2 separate regions of the Homo sapiens genome follow, and region 1 is linked to region 2. The links come from fine-mapping of genetic effects on plasma protein levels. Region 2 holds a variant in brackets. A gene starts in the other region. All regions are shown on their reverse strands.

Region 1 (8,310 bases), not on the chromosome of region 2:
AGGTGAGGGGCGCCTCTGCCCGGCTGCCCCTACTGGGAAGTGAGGAGCCCCTCTGCCCGGCCACCACCCCGTCTGGGAGGTGTACCCAACAGCTCATTGAGAACGGGCCATGATGACAATGGCGGTTTTGTGGACTAGAAAGGTGGGAAAGGTGGGGAAAAGATTGAGAAATCGGATGGTTGCCATGTCTGTGTAGAAAGATGTAGACGTGGGAGACTTTTCATTTTGTTCTATACTAAGAAAAATTCTTCTGCCTTGGGATCCTGTTGATCTGTGACCTTACCCCCAACCCTGTGCTCTCTGAAACATGTGCTGTGTCCACTCAGGGTTAAATGGATTAAGGGCGGTGCAAGATGTGCTTTGTTAAACAGACGCTTGAAGGCAGCATGCTCGTTAAGAGTCATCACCACTCCCTAATCTCAAGTACCCAGGGACACAAACACTGCGGAAGGCCGTGGGGTCCTCTGCCTAGGAAAACCAGAGACCTTTGTTCACTTGTTTATCTGCTGACCTTCCCTCCACTATTGTCCTGTGACCCTGCCAAATCCCCCTCTGCGAGAAACACCCAAGAATGATCAATAAAAAAATAATAATTAAAAAAAAAAAAGAAAAAAAAAAGAAAAGAAACCACAGTGGCCGATTGCAGTGGCTCACTCCTGTAATCCCAGCACTTTGGGAGGCCGAGGCGGGCAGATCACGAGGTCAGGAGATCGAGACCATTCTGGCTAACACGGTGAAACCCCATCTCTATTAAAAATACAAAAAAAAAATAGCCGGGCGTGGTGGTGGTTGCCTGTAGTCCCAGCTACTCAGGAGGCTGAGGCAGGAGAATGGCGTGAACCTGAGAGGCGGAGGTTCAGTGAGCTGAGACCCTGCCACTGCACTCCAGCCTGAGTGACAGAGCGGGACTCTGTCTCAAAAAAAAAAAAAAAAACACACAGCTTAGTTTTCAGTGACTCCAAATTAGGAAAATGAAAAAAAAGAAGGAAAAAAATTGAAAACTTAATTTGAAGACTTGTAGCCAAGAAAAATTCATTCCAAACTGTAGAAAATCATAAAAATTGGAAGCAAACAAACAAAAAAACAGTTAAGACTAGAATCTAACAACAGGTGAACATTCGTTTTGAAACATGATTTTATTCTCTCTCCAATTTCCCATTTTACTAAAGACAAATCATGGTATGACTTGTTTGCTTATTATACTTGGCCTAAATATTTGTATACAGTGCAGCAAGAATAATTTATTTTGTCCCATAAGAGGAATCTCAGGTAAGACTTTTTAAAGCCCTGCCCAGCCATGGATTTGTGCCATCAAATACCCATGAGTTGGATGGAATTTCCTCTCCTTTCAAGTTCCAAGATAAACATAAACCTGGGGCCTCTGTGCCTGTCAGAAAGTGACATCCTTTTTTTTTTGATCAGGCTAGTCTTGAATTCCTGACCTCAGGTGATCCTCCCGCGTTGGCCTCCCAAAGTGCTGGGATTACAGGCATGAGCCACCACTCCTGGCCCCAGAAAGTGACATTCTTTACTTACCACAGGTAAGAAATCCTGTACAGGGACTGTGTACACAAAATGTGAGGCCAGTTTTCCCAAGGGCTTTATTGGCTCCATAAGTTAAGTTTGATTCCTTAAACGAAAGCACACCATTCCTGTCAAAGTCTTGGTCAAATAATCAATTCCTCCAATTGTGTCCTGTTACAAATGAAAACAGATTCTTTTTTTTTTTTTTTTTTTTGGTGGAGTCTGGCTCTGTTGCCCAGGCTGGAGTGCAATGGTGCAATCTCAGCTCACTGCCACCTCTGCTTCCCAGGTTCAAGCGATTCTACTGCCTTAGCCTCTGGAGTAGCTGGGATTACAGGCATGTGCCACCATGCCCAGCTAATTTTTGTGTTTTTAGTAGAGATGGGGTTTTGCCATGTTGGCCAGGCTGGTCTCGAACTCACAACCTCAGGTGATTTGCCCACCTTGGCCTCCCAAAGTGCTGGGATTACAGGAGTGAGCCACCATGCCAGGCAAAAACAGATTCTTATGGCACTTATGCAAATAACTGTATTGCCATAAGTTAAGAATACTCACAAATAGTTTCCAAATTCTGGAGAAATCAGGTAGAGAAACAAATATGCTCCAAATTTTGTTCATAGGACTGTACTAAATTGTTAAAAGCTGTTGGCCAGGCACGGTGGCTCACGCCTGTAATCCCAGCATTTTGGGAGGCCGAGGCAGGCAGATCACGAGGTCAGGAGTTCAAGACCATCCTGACCAACATGCTGAAACTCTGTCTCTACTAAAAATACAAAAATTAGCCAGGTGTAGTGGTGTGCACCTGTAATCCCAGCTACTCGGGAGGCTAGGGGAGGAGAATCGCTTGAACCCAGGAGCCAGAGGTTGCAGTGAGCCGAGATCCTGCCATTGCACTCCAGCCTGGGTGACAGAGTGAGACTTCGTCTAAAAAAAAAAAAAAAGGCCAGGCACGGTGGCTCATGCCTGTAATCCCAGCACTTTGGGAGGCCAAGGTGGGCAGATCACGAGGTCAGGAGATCGAGACCACGGTGAAACCCTGTCTCTACCAAAAATACAAAAAATTAGCCGGGCGCGGTGGTGGGCGCCTGTAGCCCCAGCTACTCAGGAGGCTGAGGCAGGAGAATGGCATGAACCTGGGAGGTGGAGCTTGCAGTGAGCTGAGATCGCGCCACTGCACTCCAGCCTGGGTGACAGAGCGAGAATCCATCTCAAAAAATAATAATAATAATAATATATAATACGACAACGTGGCCTGACATGGTGGCTCACGCCTGTAATCCTAGCATTTTGGGAGGCCAAGGCAGGCGGATCACCTGAGGCGAGGAGTTTGAGACCAGCCAAGCCAATATGCTGAAACCCCATGTCTACCAAAAATACAAAAATTAGCCAGGTGTGGTGGCACATGCCTGTAAACCCAGCTACTGGGGAGGCTGAGGCAGGAGAATCACTTGAACCCAGGAGGCAGAGGTTGCAGTGAGCCAAGATTGCACCACTGCACTTCAGCCTGGGCAACAAAGCAAGACTCTACCCTGAAGAAAAAAGTATACGACAACTTGATTATATAAAAGTTTTTGGGTTTTTGGCCGGGCACGGTGGCTCACACCTGTAATCTCAGCACTTCTGGAGGCCGAGGCAGGTGGATCACGAGGTCAGGAGATCAAGACCATCCTGGCTAACATGGTGAAACCCTGTCTCTACTAAAAACACAAAAAAATTAGCCAGGCATGATGGCGGGCCCCTGTAGTCCCAGCTACTCAGAAGGCTGAGGCAGGAGAATGGCGTGAACCCGGGAGGCAAGCTTGCAGTGAGCCGAGATTGCGCCACTGCACTCCAGCCTGGGTGATAGAGCGAGACTCCGTCTCAAAAAAAAAAAAAAAGTTTTTGGGTTTTTTGTGACTTACACTGACTGTTCATGACATGGTTGGACTTTCCAATTTGTTCTGAACATCCCTCCTTTTTATTTATTTTGGGTTTTTTTTTTTTTTTTTTTTTTTTCAGATGGAGTCTTGCTCTGTCACCCAGGCTGGAGTGCAGTGGCATGATCTCCGCTCACTGCAAGCTCCGCCTCCCGGGTTCACGCCATTCTCCTGCCTCAGCCTCCCGAGTAGCTGGGACTACAGGCGCCCACCACCACGCCCAGCTTAATTTTTTGTATTTTTAGTAGAGACAGGGTATCACCATGTTAGCCAGGATGGTCTTGATCTCCTGACCTTGTGATCCGCCCGCCTCGGCCTCCCAAAGTGCTGGGATTACAAGCGTGAGCCACTGCGTCCGGCCCTATTTTGGTTTATTTTTTATTTTTTATTTTTTTCTTGAGACTGAGTCTTGCTGTCACCCAGGCTGGAGTGCAGTGGCATGATCTCAGCTCATTGCAACCTCTGCCTCCCAGGTCAAGCGATTCTCCTGCCTCAGCCTCCCAAGTAGCTGGGATTATAGGCACACACCACTAAGCCTGGCTAATTTTTGTATTTTTAGTAGAAACAGGGTTTCGCCATGTTGGCCAGGTTGGTTTCAAACTCCTGACCTCAAATGATCCTCCTGCCTCAGTCTCCCAAAGTGCTAGGATTATGTGTGAGCCACTGCACCCGGCTTATTTTTTTTTTTTTTTAGCAGAGTCTTGCTCTGTCACCCAGGCTAGAGGGCAGTGGCGCAATCTCAGCTCACTGCAACCTCCGCCTTCCAAGTTTAAGTGATTCTCCTGCCTCAGCCTCCTGAATAGCTGGGATTATAGGTGTGGGCCACCATGCCTGGATAATTTTTGTGTTTTTGTTGTTGTTGTTGTTGTTGTTGAGATGGAGTCTTGCTCTGTCACTGAGGCTGGAGTAACAGTAGCATGATCTCGGCTCACTGCAACCCCCACCTCCCAGGTTGAAGCAATTCTCCTGCCTCAGCCTCCTGAGTAGCTGGGATTACAGGCACCCACCACCATGCCGGGCTAATTTTTGTATTTTTAGTAGAGATAGGTTTCACCATGTTGGCCAAGCTGGTCTCAAACTCCCGACCTCAGGTGACCCGCCCACCTCGGCCTCCCAAAGTGTTGGGATTACGGGTGTGAGCCACCACTCCCAGCCAAAAAAAATTTTTTTAATCTTATTACCATATTTCAGCTAGAACAAAATGCTGCTAAAGTAACAATGATCACACAAAGTATATGATTTCTGAGTGCTGTAAGTGTAAGCAGAAGTTAACACCAGCTGGTTGTTAAATGCTAACTTTAGTCATTTAAAGGAAATTGCAAGGCAGAATCCCAAGCCAGTTTCTTACCTAGTGATGGGTCTCAGGCTGTAGACTGCTCTCTACCATCCCAGAAGCAGGAAAAAAAAACTAATTTTCCCTGTTGGAAGCGAGCTCAAACTCCATAAAGGAGTTACCTGCCTTCCATCGTCATGGAAGCAGAAAAACTTGCTTTCCTTTTGGGAGCAAGTAAAACTCCAAAAAAAAAAAAAAAAAAAAAAAGAGTTGTACAGCAAAATAAACTTTAGATCTCAACCAATTGAGAAATCAAGGATTCTCTGGAGGGGGTGCTCCCAGACCTCAGCAAATTGTCCTATTGGTTTGAGCCATAAAGTTAGCTCCTGCTGGTACCAAGCACAGATAGGCAATTAGTCAAAAGTCAAGGACATCTCCACACAGAATCCATCCATAGTTACCAAATGTGAACCCAGAAAATCTGAGACAGCTCTCAGTTAATTTAAAAAGTTTATTTTGCTGAGGTTGAAGATGCATCCAAGACACAGCCTCAGGAAGTCCTGATGACATGTGCCCAAGGTGTTCCGGGCACAGCTTGGTTTTATACATTTTAGGGAGATATGAGACATCTATCAATACGTAAGAAGTACCTTAGCCAAGCGTGGTGGCTCAAGCCTGTAATCCCAGCACTTTGGGAGGCCAAGGTGGGCAGATCACAAGGTCAGGAGTTCAAGACCAGCCTGGCCAATATGGTGAAACCCTGTCTCTACTAAACATATAAAAATTAGCTGGGTGTGGTGGCACGCGCCTGTAGTCCCAGCTACTCTGGAGGCTGAGGCAGGAGAATCGCTTGAACCCGGGAGCCAGAGGTTGCAGTGAGCCGAGATCATGCCATTGCACTCCAGCCTGGGCGACAGAGTGAGACTTCATCTAAAAAAAAATTAGGCCAGGCGCGGTGGCTCACACCTGTAATCCCAGCACTTTGGGAAGCTGAGGCAGGCAGATCACAAGGTCAGGAGATCGAGACCATCCTGGCTAACACGGTGAAACCTCGTCTCTACTAAAAATACAAAAAATTAGCCAGGCGTGGTGGCGGGCGCCTGTAGTCCCAGCTACTCGGGAGGCTGAGGCAGGAGAATGGCATGAACCCGGGGGGCAGAGCTTGCAGTGAGCTGAGATCGCACCACTGCACTCCAGCCTGGGCGACAGAGCGAGACTCCGTCTCAAAAAATAAAAATAAAAAAAAAACAGAAGTACATAAGCTCTGTCCAGAGAGGTGGAGACAGCTCAAAGCACGGCCCCCCACTGGGGGCTTCCAGGTCACAGGCAGGTGACAGACAGATGGTTGCATTCTTTTGAGTTTCTGGTAGTCTTTCCAAAAGAGGCAATGGAGGCAATCATAATATGCATCTATGTCTGTAAGCAAAAGGATGACTTGAATAGAATGGGAGGCAGATTTGTCCTGAGCGGTTCCCAGCTTGAAGGGGCCCAAGATATTTTCCTTTCACATATTGAACAAGTGAAACCACAAATGAATGAACAAGCATGTGCTCACTGACAGCTCATATGCATGGTCACACAAACACAGGATCTCATGCTCACAAGACAGCAGGGCTCACACACACCCAGTCCCAGGCACTGGGTTCCACACTCACACCTACTTGCCACTGGAATTTGTGCAGAGGCTCAGATGGTCACTAAATGGGGCTTCACAAAGACACAGTCACTAACCCAGCACATATACAAAGGGTGATGACACAGCCCTGACTTCATGAACACAGTGCCTTTCAGAAACAGGTCCCTACAACAGGGATGACTTATCCACTAAGCACAATAGACCCAAGGCCTAGGGCCACAGTACTTTCAGGGGCCCACAAAATGTTTTTTTAATCAGAAGAAGAATATAAATGTAAATATATTAATAATTAATATATAATAGTGTAACCCAGACATGACCTCCTGGGCTCAAGCACTCCTCCTGCCTCAGTGTCCCAAGTAGCTGGGACTACAGGTACATACCACCATGCCCAGCTAATTTTTAATTTTTTTGTAGAGATGGGGTCTTGCTACATTGCCTAGGCTGGTCTCGAACTCCTGGGCTCAAGCAATTCTCCCACCTCAGCCTCCCAAAGTGCTAAGACTATAGCCATATATATATATATATATATATATATATATATATATATATATTTTTTTTTTTTTTTTTTTTTTTGAGATGGAGTCGCTCTCTGTCACCCAGGCTGGAGTATAGTAGCACAGTGGAGCAGTCTTGGCTCACTGCAACCTCTGCCTCCCGGGTTCAAGGGATTGTCCTGCCTCAGCCTCCCGAGTAGCTGGGATTACAGGCGCCTGCCACCACGCCCGGCTAATTTTTTGTATTTTTAGTAGAGAAGGGGTTTCACCATGTTAGCCGGGATGGTCTCGATCTCCTGACCTCGTGATCTGCCACCTCGGCTTCCCAAAGTGCTAGGATTATAGGCGTGAGCCTCCGCACCTGGCATGCCTGGCCATATTTTAAAATATTTTTTTTAAGGAGGAAAAGATCCACGAAAGTAAAGTGCCTAGGGCCCATCAATGTCAGATGCAGCCACGTGGACAAAGAACACTCCCTGAGCACAAGACACGAAAGAACCCGGTCTCCAGTGTCACAAACAGGCCTGCCCAGCAGGGTCTGCCCCTGCCCACCTCCTCCAGCCTAGGTAAGGCCACAAAGCCCTGCCCTAGTGCTGACAGCGTGGGAGGGGCCACTGTTGGCCCAGCCCCACCCCCAACCAAGATCCCTTTGCCAGGGATTCAGAGGTAGCCCTGATGCCTGGCTGGCCTGGCCTCCTAATCCAAGGCCCGCCCCTTGGCCCGCCCCTGGCCTGGGTGGGGTGACCCCCTACAAAAGCTCAGAATTTCCAGCAGCGGCTCCTTCCTCCAGGAGTCTCTGGTGCAGCTGGGGTGGAATCTGGCCAGGCCCTGCTTAGGCCCCCATCCTGGGGTCAGGAAATTTGGAGGATAAGGCCCTTCAGCCCCAAGGTCAGCAGGGACGAGCGGGCAGACTGGCGGGTGTACAGGAGGGCTGGGTTGACCTGTCCTTGGTCACTGAGGCCATTGGATCTTCCTCCAGTGGCTGCCAGGATTTCTGGTGGAAGAGACAGGAAGGCCTCCCCCCCTTGGTCGGGTCAGCCTGGGGGCTGAGGGCCTGGCTGTCAGCCACTCTTCCCAGAACATATGTCATGGCCTCAGTGGCTCATGGGGAAGCAGGGGTGGGCGAGCTTAGGCTAGAGCAAGTCCTGTGGGAGATGGCAGAGGCCTGGTCTGAGAGGCAACTCGGATGTGCCCTCCAGTGGCCATGCTCCCCTCCATGCGTCTCCCCTGCCCTCCTGGAGCCCTGCAGGTCAATGTTTAACAGAAACCAGAGCAGCGGTGGATTAATGCGCAAGGGCTCAGCCCCCCAGCCCTGAGCAGTGGGGGAATCGGAGACTTTGCAACCTGTTCTCAGCTCTGCCTCCCCTGGCCAGGTTGTCCTCGACCAGTCCCGTGCCATGGCAGCCCACCTGCTTCCCATCTGCGCCCTCTTCCTGACCTTACTCGATATGGCCCAAGGCTTTA
Region 2 (8,325 bases):
CTTCACTTGCCCCAGTTGAGGGCCAAGACCAAGCAGGAGAGACTGAGGCTCCAGTGAGAATGAGGCAGGACTTCAAATAAGCTGAAAAACAGGAATGTGGTGCTAAGAGGCCAGGGACTGAGCTGCCCTATGCCCACTGCCCGGGGCTGCCCTCCCTGCACAGCAGGGGAACCTGGACCCTGCTCCTGTCTTTTGTGTCAAAGGAGCTCTCTGTCCTAGCAACCCCAAGAAGCTTCACTGGAGCAACTCGTTTTCCTGAATTTCCCACACTTCTAGGCCAGACAAGGAGCAAGGGGTGGGAGGGGAGGGAATGGGGTCAGGGGGCTTGAGGTGCCTAGAGATGGCAGCTCCCTCTCCCGCCTCCTCCCCAGGTGGTTCAGGCTGCAGGGTGGCCAGCATGGCCCTTCAGGGCCCTTATCTTGGCCTGGAAGTAGGTGTACATGGCCAGCAGGCCCATGAAGGACAGGGAATAGAGCCCCACACAGAGGCTGATGTCCAGGTAAGAGAAGCCCCCTCCCAGCACCTGCAGCCACTGGCCTCGGCCCCGTCCAGCTCGGGCCTCCAGCTGGCCCTCAGGGATGTCGACCAGCTGCTTGGAGCTGCGGCCCACGCGCCTGACCTCCAAAGGGCCCCAGAGGCGGTTCTTCTCAGCCCTGGACTCAGCCAGCAATGCAGCCCCTGTGTCTCGCTTGCTCAAGTGCCACTGCCCAAGCGGCTGCTCCTGCTCATTCCTCTGAAGCTCTGCCATGTGCTCAGGAGGCTCCTGGCCTGGTGCAGCTCTGAGGCCAGGGTGCAGCTTCGGGGGTCGACTTGCCTCAGGTCCCTCAGCCGGCACATGTGGGGTGGTGTTTGTGGGGGACTTCATCATCTCAGGCTTCCCAGGGTCCAGAGTTGAATTCCGGCTTTCCAGCTCCAGGGCTCCCATCGCCAGCTCTGGGGCGGCTGCCACATTCTGCACATCCCTCCGGGCAGCTGACCCAGCTGCAGGGAAGTCCAGGATGATGTTGCTTGGGGAGAAGTGGGCCTTGAGGAAGTTGAGGGTGGCTTCCACGTCCCACACGGGCACATCCAGGCGTTCATTGTGGCAGGCAGAACAAAGTTCACGGGGTGGCCACTGCACCTTGGGGAACTGGGGGTCCTCGCTGGGGGCACCTACAGAGGGAAGCATACACAGGCTGGTGGTGACATCAGTCCCACCCAAAAACCCAGACCACACTCCTCCACTCAGAACGCCAGCTTCCTTGTCTGCAGAAAGGGCTCGCCACTGCCCTTCCAGAGGATGGGTAATTAGAAAATACAGATTACAAACACTAGCCCACAGTGGGAGCTCAACAGATGGCAGCATGGAGGAGGAGGCAGATCCACCTACCCCTCAGCCCCGGCCCTCCGTGGTTTTCCAGGGAAGCGTGAAGAGCGCCATCTCAGTCATTTCCCGGTGTTGGCCAGACCCACTGTCCTGCTATGTGGACTTTACAACCAGCCTTTACCCCAGTACCAGACATGGGAAAGGGCAAGAATACTCATTTTGATCTGTTTTGCAGTCTTTGGTCGGTCTGCTCGTGTTTGTCTTTTTTTGCATTTTTCTGACATTTTCCAAATTATACAAACTGCACAAATAGGTTACTTTGTCAATTCAAGGGAAAATGCGTTTTCAAGCAAGAGGCAGCTGCTCATGGCAATCCTTGCTTTTACCCAGCAGCAGCCCTCTGGGGTAGGGGTGGGCTCCAAGGGATAGTTGGGGGGAGACCTGAGGGGTACTTGGAAGAGTCAGGATGCTGCTGGGGCTGCAGGCTGTTGGTACCCCAGGTGGGCCCAGCCCTCTAGGCAGCCTCTGGATGAGTCCCAGAGGGTGAGCCACGGCCACCAGCCCCTCACGCAGTGTTGCCCAGGGAATGCATCAGCCCATCCCTTCTGTAGAAGCACTTCTCCTAAAGGTTTTAATAGGGGGACAAGTTGTTGACTACAAGGAAGCAGGAGCAGCAACAGCAAGTGGCATGCAAGTCAGAATGGTTACTTTGGGGAGGGGACAACAAGCAGAGTCAAGGGTCCAGTCATGAGTCATAGTGATCAGGCCTTGTGGAGGGGGCTCTCAGCTTGTGCCTGGTAATTTTGAGTTTCTTCTGAAAGGACCCCACCAGAGAGGGGAGGGAACCACCCTGCTTCTGGCCTCTCAGGGACAGGCCCAGGCTCCTGGCCCTCCAGCAGCAGCTGGGAGCCTGCCGAGGTCAAGGGGCTGAAGGGTCAAATGGAGCATTTGGTGGCAGGGGCGGGGTGGGGGAAGGAGAAGACAGGCACATGTCTTCCTTTCAAAGTTCGATAGGAGGCCCCAGGAGACCACGACCAAGTGCAGGCGCCTGCACCACCACCTGCTCCATTCAGCTCCTTTAACCTCGGCTCCGCCCTGGTCTCCCCCCCCCGGGAGGCTGTCACAGCCACGTGCACCGCTCCCTCCCGACACACAAACCGCCTCCTGTCCACAGATGGCTCCCTCCCGACCCAGCTCCCTGGAGTTTAATGTGTTTGCCTGTTAGAGCCATCAGACTCCTGATGAGGAAAAGGAAGCACCATAATGAGGGAACGCAGAGGGCAAGGCTCCCTCCTGGGAGCCGGTGCCTGGTATTTCCAGGAACGACCTGGTCTCCTCCAGCCCCTTCTCTCATCAGACCCTTCCCAGGGAGAGAGAACCCCAGCTCCCTCTGCCCTAGCAGTTTGAGTAAGGGGCCAACAGCCAGAAGACGGAGCAGGGGAGGCGGGAGAGGGACCCCAGTAGGCTAGAGAGGGGCCCTAGAGCAGGGAAAAAGTGAGCAACGGCATGGGAAGACCAGGGTCTTACAGTGTCAAAGCCTTGGCTTCCTCATGTCAAAAATGGGGCTGATGATACTGGCATTGGTTAACAGGCCTGGGCTGTGACTGAGGGGACAATGAGTGTCCCTTCCCCAAATTTTGGCCTAAGACTCCCAAGTATCCTCACCCCCTCGTCCCCCACAAGTGACTCCAGCCTTGGGGATGGTCCTTCCTTACCTGCAAGGCGAGCATTGACCCTGTTGTGGCTAGACCAGAGCCAGAGGACAGCGGCGTTGGGACTCCCCACCCGGTGCATGGAGGCAGCAGCCATCTGCTCGAAGTGGCTAGCGCAGTCTCGGCAGCCGAAGAAGTAG[T/C]GCACGTAGCCTCGGATGGCTGGGAGGACCTCCTTGGCCTTGGCTACAGGGCAGAGGAGATGCCACGCACCAGCCCTTCAGGCTGCCAGCCCCACAGCCGTTGCCTCCCCAGGCCACCCTGCCGCCCCCCATCCTGCCGTGGCCACCCCTGCACAGGTGCCACACACCCCAGCCTATGCCAGCAGAGGCCCAGTGTCCCCTTGTCTACTTCTCTACCTGCCATGGTCACTTTACAGGAGACCCCATCCCCCCAAAACTCCTAAACCTGGATCCCCTTCCCTGCCACTAACCTGGGTGCCTGTCACTCACACCCAGGACAAAGTCCACACTCCTTGGCAGGAAACTCAGGCTCTTTGTGACATGGTGAGAGAGGTCAGCAGGGGCCAGAGGGCCACCGCCCTAGCCCCTGGCCCTTCCTCCCCTGCCCACTCATGCTGCCTGTCCGACTTGCTTCCACCATGCGTCACCTCCCTCGGGCCTGGACCTGGCCTGCACATGCCCTTCCTAATCTGTCTCCATCTCTCCTCGCTCTCCCCTTCCATTCCCCCCACCCCCTCCCACCCACTGGACCCTCTGGACTGGCATCAGCAAAGACCTGTTAACCAGCCCCACTTTCTTGCTCTAACTGAAACCAGGCTCCCCGCTGAGGACACCACTCCTAATCCAACACGCCCCTCCTAAGCCCTTCACCCTCAGGCTCCAGGGCTGCTGGTGCTTGCCTCCAAGCTCGCTCCTTCCTACCGCAAACCTCCCAGGCCTTTAGAAGCCAATCTCCTGCTTTTACCCCTCCACGCAGCAGGACGTTGGCACCCTACTCTCCTCACTCCTGGCAAGGTGAGACCCGCAGCAGCCCACACCTGCCTCTCTCTCTCTCCTCTGCCTTCTCAGCTTGTTCTTCTGCACCCAGCACAGGTGCCCACCTCCCCACCACAAGGCCTCACCACACGGCCCTGGCGTTGCTCAGCCTCTGTCTCCGCTGCTGCTCGGGTTACCCCACTCCTCACCTCCAGGATTTCACTCCCGTTAGTGTTTTTTCTTTACTGCGTCATCCATTTATCCCCTGATAAGGGATCATTCCAACTGGGGAAAAGGATGATCATAAAGAAGTTCCCTCTAACCCAGTCATGCCCCAGTTCCTGCTCATTATCTCCAGAATCTTGCCTCCTGGTCTCTCTTCAGCCGAATCCAACAAGGCCATTACCTCCACTACTCCACCGACACAGCCCTTGCTAGAGATGTCCTCATCTTGCGCCACCTCCAGCTGCACTGGCCCCAGTGACTACACCTCTATCTTGAAACACTGGACTCTGGGGCCCCCTTGAAATCACCATGGCCTCCCCCGTTCAGCCTCCTTTGCTGGTGGTTTGATGCTCAGGATTCAGTCCTCAGCACTCTTCTCTACCTCCCTGCCAGGGAGCTCATCCAGTCCCACAGCTTGAGCTCTGATGCTACTAATGACTATAAAGCTAATCTCTCTATTCCCCACCTCTCCCTGGAACTCCAGACTCAACTGTGCACACCTCCATTGGGAGGTCTATTGACACAAAGCGGGCCATTGATTCCACCATCCCAACCCGAGCCCCTGACTCCTCAGCTTATGGGACCATCATCCACCAGAGGCTCAGGCCCCACAACCCTGGAGTCCACCCGAGTCCTGCTTCCCACATACCCTTCCTCCAATCTATCAGTAAGTCCCTCAGCTCTGCCTTTAACATATCCCCAAATCTGACCACTTCCTCCAGGGGCACACTGACAACCCTAGTCCAGGCCCAACCACCACTGCTGGGCGAGCATGCAGCTTGCTCCTCAGCTGCCCTGCCTCCCCCTGCCTGCAGTAGCCCATCCTCCACCTTTCTAAAGTGTTAACCAACTGTCACTTCCGTTAGCCTCTCCAGTGGCTTCTCAAAATGCCAACACCAACCTCCAAACCCTGCCCTCGCCAAGGCCTCTGAGCCCATGAGCGCTCACCTCCGCCCCCGGCCTGTCTCTGCAGCCTCACCTCCCTCCCTCCGGCCACAGCAGCCTTCTTTCAGTGCTGCCCACACACCAGGCTTGTCCTTTGCACCTGCTGGTCTCCAGCCTGTGCTATGGGCTGAATTATGTCCCCCCAAATTCCTATGTTGAAGCCCTAATCCCCAGCCTCTCAGAATGTGGCCGTATTTGGAGACAGGGTCTTTAAAGAGGTAATGAAGGTAAAATAAGGTCATTAGGGTGGGCCCTAATCCAATAGGACTGGTGTCCTTGCAGGAAGAGGAAATTTGGACATGGATTGGGAGAGGGACAACTGCACGGAGACACAAGGAGAAGACGACCACCGCCCAGCCAAGGAGAGGCTCGAAGAAACCAGCACAGACACCTCCACCTTGCACTTCAGCCTCCAGAACTCAGACAACAGACGTCTACTGGCTGAGCCCCAGCCTGACATTTGTGAGTGCAGCCCAAGGACACCAACACAGCCTGGGAGACTCTCTTCCCAGACGTCCCACACTGCCTTCTCCTCTCCACATGGGTCCCAGCACCGGGCCCTCCACAGGGAAGCCTTTCCCAGACCCCTCTCCAGACAGCACCCGCTCCGGCACTGCTTTGCTTTGTCTTCCTCAGCATTCGTCATCATGGCTGAAGCCATCCCTCTGTGTCTGTCTCCTGCCACTCAGATACTGGCCCTGTGGGGGCAGGGACCTGTCTCATATGCTGCTGTGTCCCCGGCACCTGCAGCGCCACATGGCATGGTGGAGATGCTCCATACACACTGGCTTCCCACACCACTGCCTGGCAGTTCCTCTGATTCACGGGGCTCCACACAGGCTGCTCCCTCTGCTGGGATGCTCCTCTCCTGGCGGAATCCCTACTCACCCATCACCCCTCAACTCACCCCGTAAGGCCTCGGGCCCCTTCCCAATGGCGTCGAGCCTGCCCTCTCTTCACCCCACATCTTTCTCTCCACCACGGCCCTAGCCCTGATGCACTGCAGGCCTCTCTGTCCCCCTGCCTCACACTAGAGGTCCACCAAGAGCGGGCACTGTCGCCCTTTTCACCCATGTATCTATCCTCCAAGCCAAGCCGCAGCCTGGTATAAACCTGGTTCCTCAATCAGTGTGGACTGAATTGGATGCGCATCCTTTCAGTCTTCAAAAGCAGGTGTGGGGCAGCGTGGCCGGAGAACATGGTGGTGCAGTTTGTGGACAATCCGAGGCAGCAGGGGAAACGTGTTTCCCCAACTTCCCCCAGGAAATTGTTTTTCAGTGGGAAGTGCAATAAAATTGCTCAAAGCACCTGCTATGTATCAGCTATGTAAACTGTAAAATACACGTTTTTTTCTTTGTTAAGAGTATAAAAAAATAGAATCACAATTTTTTCATGAAGACTGAAAGCAAAGCAAACTATAAGCCCGGAGAAAGACAGGGAGAAGCCTCAGCCCCAGAGCTCCCGGGGCCGAAAACAGGACTGGTTGAATTCCTAAAGTCTGCTCCCTCCTGGGATTGGTTCTATTCTGGCCGTGTGGGGCTACCTGCAGATAGAGCAATCCAGCCAGAGCCCCAAGGCTGACTCTCCCCATCTTCTGGCAGCTGGGAGCCAGTGGGGCAATTCAAGGGAGCTTCCCTGCCCCCTCTCCCCTTGGAGGGCCGAACAGAGCAGGGTTGGAGGCACAGTGGGGTGAACGGGTCCTGGACGTACCTGCTTCCTGTGAGTGGTCTACATTTTGCCGAGCTGCCTGCACAGTCAAGAAGTGGAAGAGGACCCACAGGGAGCAGGGAAAGCCCCGGAAATGCGGCTCACTCCCCTGGCAGCCAATCCAGTTCACCTTCTTGGCAAGAACGGCACCCTGAGGGACACATGAGTGTGAGTGCACATATGGAGAAGGAAAAGGATGGGAGAGGCAGAGACAGAAGCTTCTAGGAGACAGCCCTAAGACAAATGAGGTCCCTCAGTCTATCACCTCGAAGGTGGCATTTCCCTTTCACCAGTTCCACCCACTGAAGCAGCAGCAGACCTAAAAAGCTGTGACCCAGATCAAGCTGCATCCCGTTCCAGCCTCAACTTCCCCAGCTGTAACACAAGGGGGTTATCTCTGAGGTCCCTTCGAGATTTGACACCCTACAAGTCTACAGGGTTTTACACCTCTGCTGGCTGCAGTGACCCACTTTTGCAAATAGCAGCATGAGCAGGAGCCCAGAAGGTGCCCTGGAGAGGGCCAGGGAGGCCATGCTGAGCAGCACCACAAACTAAGAGGCAGCACAGGGTAGTTGTTAAAAACTCTGGGGTCTCACCAAGTTTTCATCCCAGCCCAAACACTTACTGGCTCCATGAACCCAGACAAGTTGCTTAACCTTTTCAAAGTACTGTTTCTTCATCTGCTAAATGGGGAGAATATCTACCTTCCACTAACATTATGAGGATTAAATGAGATGTGCGCATAGAGAGCTCAATCAATAGTCATTTATTGATTATTGTTAGGACCCAACGAAGATCACTGACTCCCTGGTGCAAACTGGCGAAGAAGGTCAGAAATGACAGGGTTAACCCCTTGCACTCTCATAAATACGGAGGATGGAGAGATCTTTATTTGCTTCCCAGACTCACCTCTTTCCTGTCGTCCAGGGCAGTTTTAAAGAAACTGTAGGGAATTTTATTTCTCTTCTGCCTCTTGAGCCATTCATTCACGGAGTGCAGGAAGTTCTGGACTAAGGGCCGGCCAGGGAAATACTGTGGGGAGGAACAAGCGGAAGCTGGAGAGTGAAAAGCAATTCCCCAAGTTCCCCGTCCTGCAGATGGTAGGAAGCTATGCAGAAGAAGGCGGGGGGCGGGGGGCGGGGGGCAGTGGGGAGGAGGTTGTGCAAAGTTCCAAAACCACCAGGAAAACATTCTAACTAAGACACAAATATGACTTCTGTACTACCTTTGCTCTGGGACACCTGGTAAGGCTAGAAGACAGGGTAGGGAAGGTGCTCGCTCTAAATGGGGTGGGGTCCTGGAAGTCTCCCTCTCTCAGACCTCAGGCTCCTGTGCAGCACCCCCCGACCATGTGCCACCACTGGGAGGAAGGCTGGAGCACTTGTGCCCCTTGCCAGGGCTGCTGGGAGCCCTGGGCCACACAGTCCTGTCTTTGGGTGGTCCTCGGATAGAGCTGACTTGCCAACTGACTGGCCAGCTGGGTTAGGTGGGCACG

Which allele goes with the higher level. Positions count from the first base shown, and alleles are read on the strand shown. Strength reflects both the effect of a copy and how common the allele is.
For the plasma level of the protein whose gene starts at base 7,626 in region 1, T is the high allele of the variant in region 2 and C is the other (weak association).

The links. PIP is the chance, under the fine-mapping model, that this variant and not a neighbour inherited with it causes the effect. The UK Biobank Pharma Proteomics Project read protein levels with antibody pairs (Olink). The fine-mapping took linkage between variants from a reference panel, not from the people measured, so its PIPs are less certain.
Region 1: it holds the start of HYAL1, and the variant in region 2 is fine-mapped to the plasma level of the HYAL1 protein (UK Biobank, PIP 0.92).

Annotation. Positions count from the first base shown.
Region 1 is chr3:50,302,890-50,311,199 of GRCh38, reverse strand. HYAL1 (hyaluronidase 1) reads left to right here and starts at 7,626. Exons shown (of 4, transcript NM_033159.4): 1 at 7,626-7,734; 2 at 8,220-8,310. The coding sequence starts at 8,244. RefSeq lists enhancers at 7,221-7,390, 7,208-8,142.
Region 2 is chr1:180,189,089-180,197,413 of GRCh38, reverse strand. QSOX1 (quiescin sulfhydryl oxidase 1) reads right to left here. Exons shown (of 12, transcript NM_002826.5): 9 at 7,740-7,862; 10 at 6,834-6,981; 11 at 3,022-3,201; 12 at 1-1,152. The coding sequence ends at 377. Among named protein-coding and RNA genes, the nearest start is that of LHX4, 37 kb to the left of the region's middle. RefSeq lists enhancers at 1,305-1,474, 3,373-3,542, 3,844-4,515. The variant T/C (reference allele first, on the strand shown) is at 3,159.